Homo sapiens: one gene and its partners. The protein of the gene in region 2 purifies or fractionates together with the protein of the main gene of each other region. This does not show direct contact. Each region holds a gene or a part of one and is shown on either strand. Other genes may lie near its edges. The genes, in order: CASC3, GSPT2 and SRSF12.

Region 1 (3,651 bases), on a different chromosome or scaffold from region 2:
GTTGGAGAAACTGACAGGCAATATGGAGTGTTCATTGAGTTTTGGGGATTGTGAATTTATAGCAGCTTACCATTCTATATGTAAGGGAGTTTGGATGTTTTCCTAATGGCTAGGAAAGAAGTACCACTGAAGGCTTAAATGTGGGGGATGAATTGTGGGTGAGGCACAAAGGAAGACTAGAGGCAGAAGAGCTGTTTAGAGGTTGTTAGGATAGTCCAAGGAGCATGACGATGGTGCCCCTAAAGAAGGTTCATACTTGTTGGAATGGCAAGATGTGGGACAGATTAGAGAGAGATTCTAGTGTACTAACAACCCCTTCATTGATTGAATGTGGAACCTAAATTAAGGAGTCAAAGGAGGCCAGGTACCTTGGCTCATGCCTGTAATCACAGCATTTTGGGAGGCTGAGGCAGGTGGATTGCTTGAGCCCAGGAGCCTGAGACCCACCTGGGCAACATGGAAAAATCCTGTCTCTACAAAAGAAAAGTAGAAAAAAAAATTATCCGGTCTTGGTGGCGCAGGCCTGTGGTCCCAGCTACTGAGGAGGTTCAGGCAGGAGGATCATCTAAGCCCAGGGAGGTCAAAGCAGTAGAGCTGTGATCACTCCACAGCACTCCAGCCTGGACAACAAAGTGAGACCCTGACTCAGAAAAAGAAAAAGGAGTCAAAGGAATGTGCAGGTTGATGAATGGTGTTGAATGGTGTTAACTGTTAAGGAAGGGACCCCAGGAGAAGAGTTCTGGAAGGACAGTTGTGGGTTAGGTTTTGGATGTTTTGAGATCGAGAAGGTGTGGGACTTTTAGGTGGTGATACCTGGTAAATAGTTTTTGATTCCTAATTGCTCATACCTTTCTGAGTTCTCATTTCATTTTTGAGTTTTTCCAATTCTGATTGATGTTCTTTCATGCCTTATATAATTTTCTTAATGTCTTTTTAGCTTATTTTGAAATAGAAGTTGCAATTTTGATATGATATGCGGATGTCTTTCTGGCATGCTTTCATTGTCTGTAGGAATGCTATTATTTTTTCTTATTATAACTTTATGGGATTTAACTTCTGTATTTTCTGTTCATTTTTATGTAAAATTAGTTTTCCTGGTCTTTTCGAAGGAAGCATGATTTAGAATAGCTTTTTCTAACTTCACAGAGCTGCTTCTGTTGTTTTTCTGTGGTGGTGAGAAATATGGTGGCTTGCTTTCTGAGATTTGTTGCTTTTGTTCCCTTTCCCAGCTTGTTCTGGACCATCCCTGTCCTACTGAATTTGGTCCTGCTCTCAACAGTTTCTCTTCTAGGAACTCCCTTCTAGGGACAGTGTAGGGCCCTGTCCCCAGAAGGAAGCCCTGGCAGCCAGGTCAGCTTCATCCCTTCAGACCTTTTTTTTTTTTAAGACAGAGTCTCACTCTGTCGCCCAGACTGGAGTGCAGTGGCGCAATCTCAGCTAACTGCAATCTCCGTCTCCTGGGTTCAAGCGATTCTCCTGCCTTAGCCTCCTGAGTAGCTGGGACCTCGTGTGTCACCGTGCCCAGCTAATTTTTGTATTTTTAGTAGAGATGAGGTTTCACCATGTTTTCCAGGCTGGTCTCGAACTCCTGACTCAGATGATCCACCCACCTTGGCCTCCCAAAGTGATGGGATTACAGGCATGAGCCACCGTGTGTGGCCCCCTTGCTAGTTGTAAGTGCTGTTCTCAGTTTTGACTGTTGTGCTTTCCCTTGACTGCCTGTTGATTATTTCAGTGTTCTCCTGTTCTCAGGTCCATTTGCTTTCTCTCTGCTTTCTCCTGCGTGGACACCAGTACTATACAGGTCCTACAGCTGTTGGTGCTTTGTTATGCACTTACATTTTGGGTCTTGGGGGATACCTGGTAACTTAACTTTGTTGCAGTGTTGTCTGAAGGTTTTGGTTTCTTTTTTATTTTTTGAGACAGAGTCTTGCTGTCGCCCAGGCTGGAGTGCAGTGGCTTTGCCTTCCAGATTCAAGCTATTCTTGTGCCTCAGCCTCCTGCGTAGCTGGGATTACAGGTGCGTGCCACCATGCCTGGCTAATTTTTGCATTTTTAGTAGAGACGCGGTTTTACCATGTTGGCCAGGCTGGTCTCGAACTCCTGGTCTCAGGTGATCCACCCACCTCGGCTTCCCAAAGTGTTGGGATTATGGACGTGAGCCACTGTGTCTGGCCAGGGTTTTGGTTTGGGTCTCGGTTTTGCTGTCCAGAGCTCTCATTCCATGTGGAGATTTGAAGAGAGATAAAACTGTGCCACTGCCATTTTCTGAGAGTCTTCCAAGAATTCTTTTTTTTTTTTTTTTGGCAAATGGGTCTCCTTATTTTGCCCAAGCTGAGCTTGAACTTGAACTTACAATCCTCATCAGCCTCTTGAATAGCTGAGACAATAGGTTCATGCCACTGTGCCTGGCCAAAAAAACTTGTTAAAGAAATTTGACTGAGGGAAGGCTGAAGAGATGGTAGTTGGAGAGGTAGCTTTGAGATCAAGAGGTGATTTGGATGTTTTTTAAAAAGTTAGGAGAGTATCAAATAAGGTCAAAGATTGAAAAAAAGAAAAGAAAGGGGGAAAAAAGAGAGGGAATAGATAATGATATTGAGTACTGGTATTTTTGACTGAGTATATGAGAAAAAGTAGGAACCAGACAAGATTAACATCTTCCATTGTAATTACAGAGAAGTGGGAAGGAAAGGTATGTGCAAAGGAAGATTAGAAAGGAGGGAAAAGCTGGGTGCGGTGGCTCACGCCTGTAATCCCGGCACTTTGGGAGGCCGAGGCGGGCAGATCACGAGGTCAGGAGATCGAGACCATCCTGGCTAACATGGTGAAACCCCGTCTCTACTAAAAATACAAAAAATTAGCCGGGCATGGTGGCGGGCACTTGAGCCTGGGCGACAGAGCGAGACTCCGTCTCAAAAAAAAGGGAAAAAAAAGAGGGAATAGATAATAATATTAAGTACTGGTATTCTTGACTAAGTACATGAGAAGATGTAGGAACCAGATGAGAAGTATCTTCCATTGTAATTACAAAGAAGTGGGAAGGAAAGGAAGTTAGCGTTCCTTTCTGTGTTTTGTTTTTGTGAAATAGAAGGATAGAGCAGGACAGGCACGGTGGCTCACACCTGTAATCCAAGCACTTTGGGAGGCCAAGGCAGGAGGATTGCTTGAGCCCAGGAATTTGAGACCAATCTGGGCAACAAAGTGAGACCCTCTCTCTACAAAAAATCAACCTGGCGCAGTGATGTGTGCTTATGTCCCAGCTACTTGGGAGCTTGGAGTGGGAGGATCCCTTGAGCCCAGGAGGTCGAGGCCACAGCAAGCTATGATTGCACCACTGCACTCCACCCTGGGTAACAGTGTGAGACTCTCGAAAAAAACAAAAGAATGACATCTGCTTCAAAAAGTAAGAGTGTGTGCGTGTGTGTGTGTGTGTGTGTGTGTGTGTGTAACCCCCTTTGGCAATGGAGTAGTCTGTTGTAGGCCTGGAGAAAGCAGACATTTGAATTGATCCAGTTCCAGGCATATGGGAGTGGCAAGAGAAATGGGATGTTACTAGTAGTGATTGAAATGAATGAGCTATGGAGTCTAGAGAGAGAAGAAAGTGAATGTGAGAAAGGACTGATAGGCAGAAGTTAGAAGCATCAAGGGAAT
Region 2 (3,751 bases):
TCTCCTCACAGTATCTTGCAGAGGCATCAAGAAAATTGCTTAGTCCTTCTCTGGGACCAATTTCAGAACTTTTCCAATTGCAATGGTCTTACCCTCATCTCTTAAAGTAAAACGACCCATCTGAGGAAAATCTTTGAACGTCTCGAGGCAGATGGTTCCTGCTGTCCTTAAACGAGCAATGCATACTTGATCTTGTTTCACGAAGCGGGGTCGTGTCTTACTTTTTTCTCCTGATTTTTTGTCTACCAAGGAGATTAACGCTGTTATCTCAACTTCCTCAATACAAGTATGAATGTGCAGCACCGCATTATAACCTGGGCAGATGATGGATTTGTGCTCAATAATCACTATCTGAACATCAAACGTGCGTCCAGAATGGCAGAGGTTACTAGGATCACAAAGTATGAATCCTGGAAGAATCTCTTCTTCTTCAATTCCCTTCAGTCTGATTTTGAGGTTTTCACCTGGGGCTACAAAATCAGTTTCAGTATCATCAGAAAGTATTCCAAGAACTTCTACATTGTGCTTGTTTGGCATCATCACGAGCTGCTGGCCTTTAAAAATGGACCCGGATTCCAGCTTTCCCAGGACCACAGTGCCCATATCTTTGTACTTATCCACAATTGGCAGTCTTATTGGTCCATCAATTGATCTGTTGAAGTTTGGCAAGTTATCCAAATACGGAATAAATGGTAATCCAGTGTACCAAGGGCAGAAATCTGACTGCTCTTTAATATTTGCTCCGGTCAGTCCTGAGCAGGGCATAAAGTGAATGTCCTTTTTTGGACTGAAGCCTACTTTTTTCAAAAAGGGCACCAGTTTTTCTTTACATTCTTCATATCTCTCGATGCTCCAATTTACTGTGGGATCATCCATCTTATTAATAAGCACTATTAAATGTTTTACCCCTGCCGTTTTTGCCAACATCGCATGTTCTCTTGTCTGTCCACCTTTTTCAAATCCAGTTTCAAACTCTCCTTTCCTGGCAGAGATGACCAGCACAGCCAAATCAGCTTGAGAAGCACCACCAATCATATTTGGGACAAAACTCTTGTGGCCAGGGGCATCTAAAATTGTGAAATGTTTCCTTTCTGTTTCAAAATAGGCACGACCCACTTCGACTGTTTTACCCTTGTCTCGTTCCTCCTGATTTGTATCTAAGGCCCAGGACAAATACCAGGTTTCTCTGTTTTTTTCCTTAGCTTCTCTTTCATATTTCTCCAGTGTTCTTTTGTCAACCATTCCAGTCAAAAACATTATCTGTCCTCCGATGGTTGACTTGCCAGCGTCTACATGGCCAATGAATACTACATTTACGTGTTCTTTCTTAGGTGCACCTGAGGGTACGATCACAGATTTGGATTTTCTTATTTCCTCTTTTTCCTCCATCATTTCCTGGCCACTTTCTTCTGGGGGCCCTGAATCTCCCGAGGAACCACCCCCAGGCTCGGCTTCACTTACTTCTTTACTGTGCTCCCATGATTCTTCTAGGGCCATTTCCACCTCTCCATTTTCTACAACAGGTTCTGAAAGTTCCATGGTAACGGCTGAATTGGAACCTTCAAGCGACACTAACGGTTCCTCTCGGGAAGGTTCCACAGGTGCCCCCCGTCCCATCCTTTTACCTTGAGGGTATCCCGCGCCGGTGCAGGTTTCATCGTTGCTGCCGGAGCCGGCCGGGAGGGTGGGCGGCTGAGTCGGGCCCCGCAGGAAGGACGGCACGAACTCCGCGGCGTGTACGTTAGGCACGAAGGGCTTGGCGTTGACGTTGAGCTTACGGCTGAAAGCCGAGCTGAGGGGCTCGCGCTGGGCCTCGGCCACCGCAGAGGAGACTCCATCCCCGCTCGGGGCCGACCCCGGGGATTCCATGTCCACCTGGTCCCAGCAATCGGGCGCCGAGTCGCTGCTGCTGCTGCCCGAATCCATGGTCTCGGAACTTGCTGTGTGGCAGTGAGGGAGCGGGCTCAACAGGCCAGAAGAGCGGGCTCCGCCGGCGGGGTTAAGGCAGCAAGAGCGAAGGGCCAAGGGGTAGCGACACGAACCTTAGCTGCACCGCGGAGGCAGCTAAGCGCCGATGCTGCATTCGCAACTGCGGCGGCAGCAGCAGATATGGCGGCTCAACACTCTCCTCTTGTGTGTGAGCGGATCTCCTCCCCCAAACCCCAACCACTTCCGACTCCTCCACCCCCGACCCAACGCCGGGCGTGGATTGACCCCTCGCTGCTATCCGTACGCTTGGCTTCCTTACTTCTTCTTAGCCACGGGCTAAGTCCAAAAGTATTATTTTTTAAAACGAAAATTTCCATTCACTTTTTTGTTCACACAGTCTGGCAGAGCAATTTGACCACAATCTGATGATTAAACCTAGACAGGAACACATGGTATACAATTCTACCAAAAGATTCAAGTAAAAGTGATCATTTCTATTGAACAAATGGGAGGCAAGATAAGGGTTAACTATACAGAAATTCAGAAACCCAGCAACTGAAGGGAGAGGCAAGGAATGGGTAGGGAGGGACTCATGAAATATATGAGTCTGTAGCCGAACTTAGGAAATGCAACTTAAGATCACTCATTAATTTGAAATCCACAGGCCTTTTGATTTTCCCTTTCCAGTGGGCCCCCATAAGCCTGTAACTTCTGCTGATGGCTTCTATAGTTTAAGGATAGGGTTACAACTTCTTTTCATGTTAAGCACCCTGGCTGTCTGAGGGGAGAGAATTTCCAAGGAGATCCTTGTTCCAGTGAAGCTTCCAGTCACTTCATATGCAGATGCCTGCACAATGGCTGGCCTGCCATTCAATGGTGGATCACGTAGACAAGCACAGGACTCAGATCACTCTTGTTTTACCAACCAACTGAATTCTGGGTTTATCTGCACTACTCCCCAGCACCTCCCTAGTACATCCTGCATCCACAGGCCTCGGGTTTTCCTGCTTCATTCCGGGGGGCCTGGAATCCTACTCACTGCACTGGCTTTGCTCTAAGAAACAATCAGTGTCATGTTGAACCCCTCTACAGTTTATGGTAATGAGACAGGGCTGTAGGTGTCAGCCTAATTAAACCAATTAAGACTTCTGAGATGAACAAAGACCTTAAGACCCTAATCAAAAGAATCTCACTCTCAGAAAGTGTTAACAGTTGAGTCAAAGCCTCAGCGACCTTGTTTGTAAATTAATTTAGTGCAAACTGACATAGAAAATACAAACTTATTCTCTGAATCTGTTTTTAGTCTTCATGTACTCAAATCTGTCACCTTTTGCTTTTATGAATTCAGGTTTTGTGACATACCTAGAAAGACTATTCAGTCCAAACAATCTGCTTAGTACAAGATGGTGTCACATAGATGGATTTATTTTTTTATTTTGAGACAAAGTTTCACTTTTGTTGCCCAGGCTGGAGTGCAGTGGCATGATCTCAGCTCACTGCAACTTCTGCCTCCTGGGTTCAAGCAATTCTCCTGCCTCAGCTTCCTGAGTAGCTGGGATTACAGGCGTCCGCCACCAAGCTCAGCTAATTTTTCTTAATATATATTTTTAGTAGAGACAGGGTTTCACCATGTTGGCCAGACTGGTCTTGAACTCCTGACCTCAGGTGATCCACCTGCCTCGGCCTCCCAAAGTGCTGGGATTACAGGCATGAGCCACCACGCCTGGCCTCATAGTTGGATATTTAAATCCAACAACAAAGCAAAATATTATAAAACCAAGTACCTGATTATAACTTGAGAATTGTGTTCTCCAGACTTTAG
Region 3 (3,651 bases), on a different chromosome or scaffold from region 2:
GCAAGAAAAAAGATATAAAATACAAAAATTGGAAAGATAAAAGTAACCATTCTTAGGTGACATATTTGCTTACATAGAAAATACTAGGGAATGAACAAAAAAACTGCTAGAACTAATAAGTTTAGTAAGTTATGAGGATATAAGGTAAATTTACAAAAACTTTATTTCTATATATTAACAGCAAACAATTGAAAACAATGACAATTTTAAAAAACAGTTGCATTTACCATAGCATCAAAAGGCATACTTACTTAGGAAAACAGTTAACAAAAAATGTGCAGAACCTTTGCACCAAAAACTACAACATATTTTCAAGAGGAATTTTAAAAGCTAGCATAACAAAACCCCATCTCTACTAATAATAGAATAAACAAGGTGTGCTGGCACATGCCTGTAATCCCAGCTACTTGGGAGGTTGAGGCACGAGAATAGCTTGAACCTGGGAAGTGGAGGCTGCAGTGACCCGAGATTGTGCCACAGTACTCCAGTCTGGGTGACAAAGCAAGATTCCATCTCCAAAAAAAAAAAAAAAAGACAAGTCTCACCCTGTCTTCCCAGACTGGAGTGCAGTAGCATGATCATAGCTCAGTGCAGTCTCAAACTCCTGGGCTCAAGTGATTCTTCTTCCTCAGCCTCCTAAGTAGCTGGGATTATAGACACCACGCCCAGCTAATTTTTTTTTATTTTTTGTAGAGATGGGGGTCTCACTATGTTGCTCAGGCTGATCTTGAACTCCTGGGCTCAAGTAGTCCTCCCACCTTGGCCTCCCAAACTGCTGGTATTGCAGGTATCAGCCACCATGCCTGGGCAACAGTGGGAATTCTAACACATGTTTTTGGAAATGTAAGTTGGTTGGGCCACTCTGAAGAACATGTAGTGAAGCTAAGGTAGGCATACCCTCCAGCCTACCAATTTCTTTGCTAGTGATACTGAAGCAGGAGAATAGGGTCTGGAGGCAGGGAACCTAAGGCCGATTCACAGTGACTTCCTAGAACTGAATCAAAAGGAGAACTCCACCTCTCTACACCCAAGTAACAAAAGGATCAGAGGCTACTCCCTTTGCACTGTATTACAGATAAAAAATGGAAAGTACCTCTGACTGGTCCCCTCCTACAACCAATCAGACTGGTCCCAGGCCAAGTCTTCATGTGTAACTTTGTAGCTTTGCTTCAGCCTCTAATTGGTCGCCTCCCTCCACCAGACTGGTGGTGGGCCAAGTCTTCATTTACATAGGGTGTAACCGAGTAACCAGTGGGAAACCTTAGAGGGTATTTAAACCCTAGAAAATTCTGTAACCAATGCACTTGAGTGGCTTGCTTGAGCCTGCTCCCACTCTGTGGAGTATCTTTTCATTTCAATAAATCTGTGCTTTCATTGCTTCATTTTTTCATTGCTTTGTGCATTTTGTCCAATTCTTTGTTAAAAATGCCAAGAACCTGGAGGACTCATAGGCAAGACCCTCCATTGGTAACAGAAGGATATAATATTTCTTTAAAAATACTGAAAATTATGGCAAGTATGTCAAATACGGAGAAAATAATTTTTTTTTTTTGAGACAGAGTCTTGCTCTGTTGCCCAGGCTGGAGTGCAGTGGCATGATCTTGGCTCACTGCAAGCTCCGCCTCCTGGGTTCACACCATTCTCCTGCCTCAGCCTCCTGAGTAGCTGGGACTACAGGCGCCCGCCACCACGCCCAGTTAATTTTTTGTATTTTTAGTAGAGATGGGGTTTCACCCTCTTAGCCAAGATGGTCTCGATCTCCTGACCTCGTAATCCGCCCACCTCGGCCTCCCAAAGTGCTGGGATTACAAGCGTGAGCCACCGCGCCCGGCCAGAAAATAAATCTTGTTGGTAGATACATGGGTGTTTATTATTCTCTGTACTTTTTTGAATATTGAAGTAGATCATACCAAAAGTGCAAAAATAAAACAACAGCTAACAGGTGAGGGAGTGGAGACAGTGAATGGGAATTGGCTCTTTTGAAAAGACCTGTTCCATCTGACTCCCATCACCCTTGGCTTCCAGACTCCAGACCTCTGTGGCACACAGTGCTGCAGCCTCCTCTTTTATATTATCTATGATCCCTTTCCTCTTAGCCACTACATTTGGTTGATGGGATTGGTTGTCTCAGAAGACCTTCATTTGAATCCTAGCTCTACTACTGGCTGTGTAGATCTCTGGGCAAGGTAACTTCTCTCACCCTCAGTCTCCTTAACTCTTAAATGGTAACAGTAATGTATTCTTTTTTCATTGATAGGCAAATATATATTGAGTACCTACTGTGTGCCCAGCAGCTACATTAGGTACAGAGATATGCTGGTGAAGACACCTGCTTTAGCAGTGATTCTTAACCTTCAGTCTCAGAATTGCCTGTGAAGTCCTGAAAAAATTAAACATAACTGGGCCTCACTATGGAAAACACTAATTAGGTCCAGAATTAATGCATCGGGTTGGGGTGCCTCTGTCTGTAACATCCCTTCACAGATGATTACAGTACTCAGGAGAGGTTGAGAATCTTTATGCCAGTCTATGGTCTGTGGGAGCAGGAATTGTGTTTTTCTTGTTTCTCATTATATTCCTAGAGCCTGGCACATGGTAGGTGCTCAATAAGTATTTGCTTAATTCTGAATAAGTAAAAGAAAAAAGACATTGTCACTGTCCTCAGAAACTAATAGTAAAACATGTTCTATGAGTGTTAAATGAAATAAAGTATGTCATAATGTTGACTGAGCTACTGGCAAAAAGTAGATGCTTAGTCAATTTTTGTTGAATCTTATATGTAATTTCTAAATCCCCATCTCTAGCCTTAGTCACTGGCTTCTAATAATTATATTAATACACACTAATTAATATGCATATAATCACAATTTTCTGTTGCTTATAGAACTCTTATCAGTGTTCTACCATCACCTCAAATACTGCATTTCTAAACCTGAAAGTTGCTTCTTTTGCCTCTTTTCTTCCTCCTTGATCTAGCTCTCTTCTAATTTTTGTCACTGACACCATCTTTTTTCCATTTGTCCAAGCTAGAAGCTTCTTAGTCATCTTTGAATCTTTATTTCTCCCGAGCCACATTTTATGATCATAGCTTGATGCTGAATCCCTATGATAGCACCATGAAGCAGTAGGGTGTAGTGGTTAAGATGGACCAGTATGAGACTGAAAATTTGATTTCTAGCTTTGTCACTTGCTGGCTCAGTGAGCTTAGATAGGTTACTCTGTCTGTATCACCTGTAATCTGCCTGTATTACCTGTAAATAACCTGAAATTCTGTCTGTATCACCCATAATCTGTCTGTATCATCTGTAAATAACCACAGGGAAATTGTAAGAATTAAGTGGTTGTAAGGTGAACACTGGCTAACATATAAATGCACTGTAACTGTTAGCTATTATTGCTAAATATTTTGTCTCTTCAGTTAAATTGTAGCTCCATGAAGATGAATATCATGCTGTTTCTTTTTTTTGGTACCCCTTCTGAAGCACCTAATCGCACTAGAAGGCACATAAGCAGGCTCGAAATACCTGTCAGATTTGGGAATACAGTAGTTACTTTGTTTTATGTTTAATATTAAAACATCCATTTTTCTTTAAAGCCTGATAAATAATTTTAGGACTTCTTTAGAATCTAATTCTTGCTATCTGAAAACAA

The links.
Region 1: the proteins of GSPT2 (region 2) and CASC3 purify together in Homo sapiens (affinity purification with mass spectrometry; 2 studies listed by BioGRID and IntAct, with this or other methods). This does not show direct contact.
Region 3: the proteins of GSPT2 (region 2) and SRSF12 purify together in Homo sapiens (affinity purification with mass spectrometry; 2 studies listed by BioGRID and IntAct, with this or other methods). This does not show direct contact.

The regions. Positions count from the first base shown.
Region 1 is NC_000017.11:40,146,999-40,150,649, forward strand, and holds part of CASC3 (protein CASC3), read left to right. Parts: intron 1-3,651. UniProt on the Homo sapiens protein: Required for pre-mRNA splicing as component of the spliceosome. Core component of the splicing-dependent multiprotein exon junction complex (EJC) deposited at splice junctions on mRNAs.
Region 2 is NC_000023.11:51,741,802-51,745,552, reverse strand, and holds the start of GSPT2 (eukaryotic peptide chain release factor GTP-binding subunit ERF3B), read right to left. Parts: upstream 2,112-3,751; 5' UTR 1,927-2,111; coding exon 40-1,926; 3' UTR 1-39. UniProt on the Homo sapiens protein: GTPase component of the eRF1-eRF3-GTP ternary complex, a ternary complex that mediates translation termination in response to the termination codons UAA, UAG and UGA.
Region 3 is NC_000006.12:89,107,992-89,111,642, reverse strand, and holds part of SRSF12 (serine/arginine-rich splicing factor 12), read left to right. Parts: intron 1-3,651. UniProt on the Homo sapiens protein: Splicing factor that seems to antagonize SR proteins in pre-mRNA splicing regulation.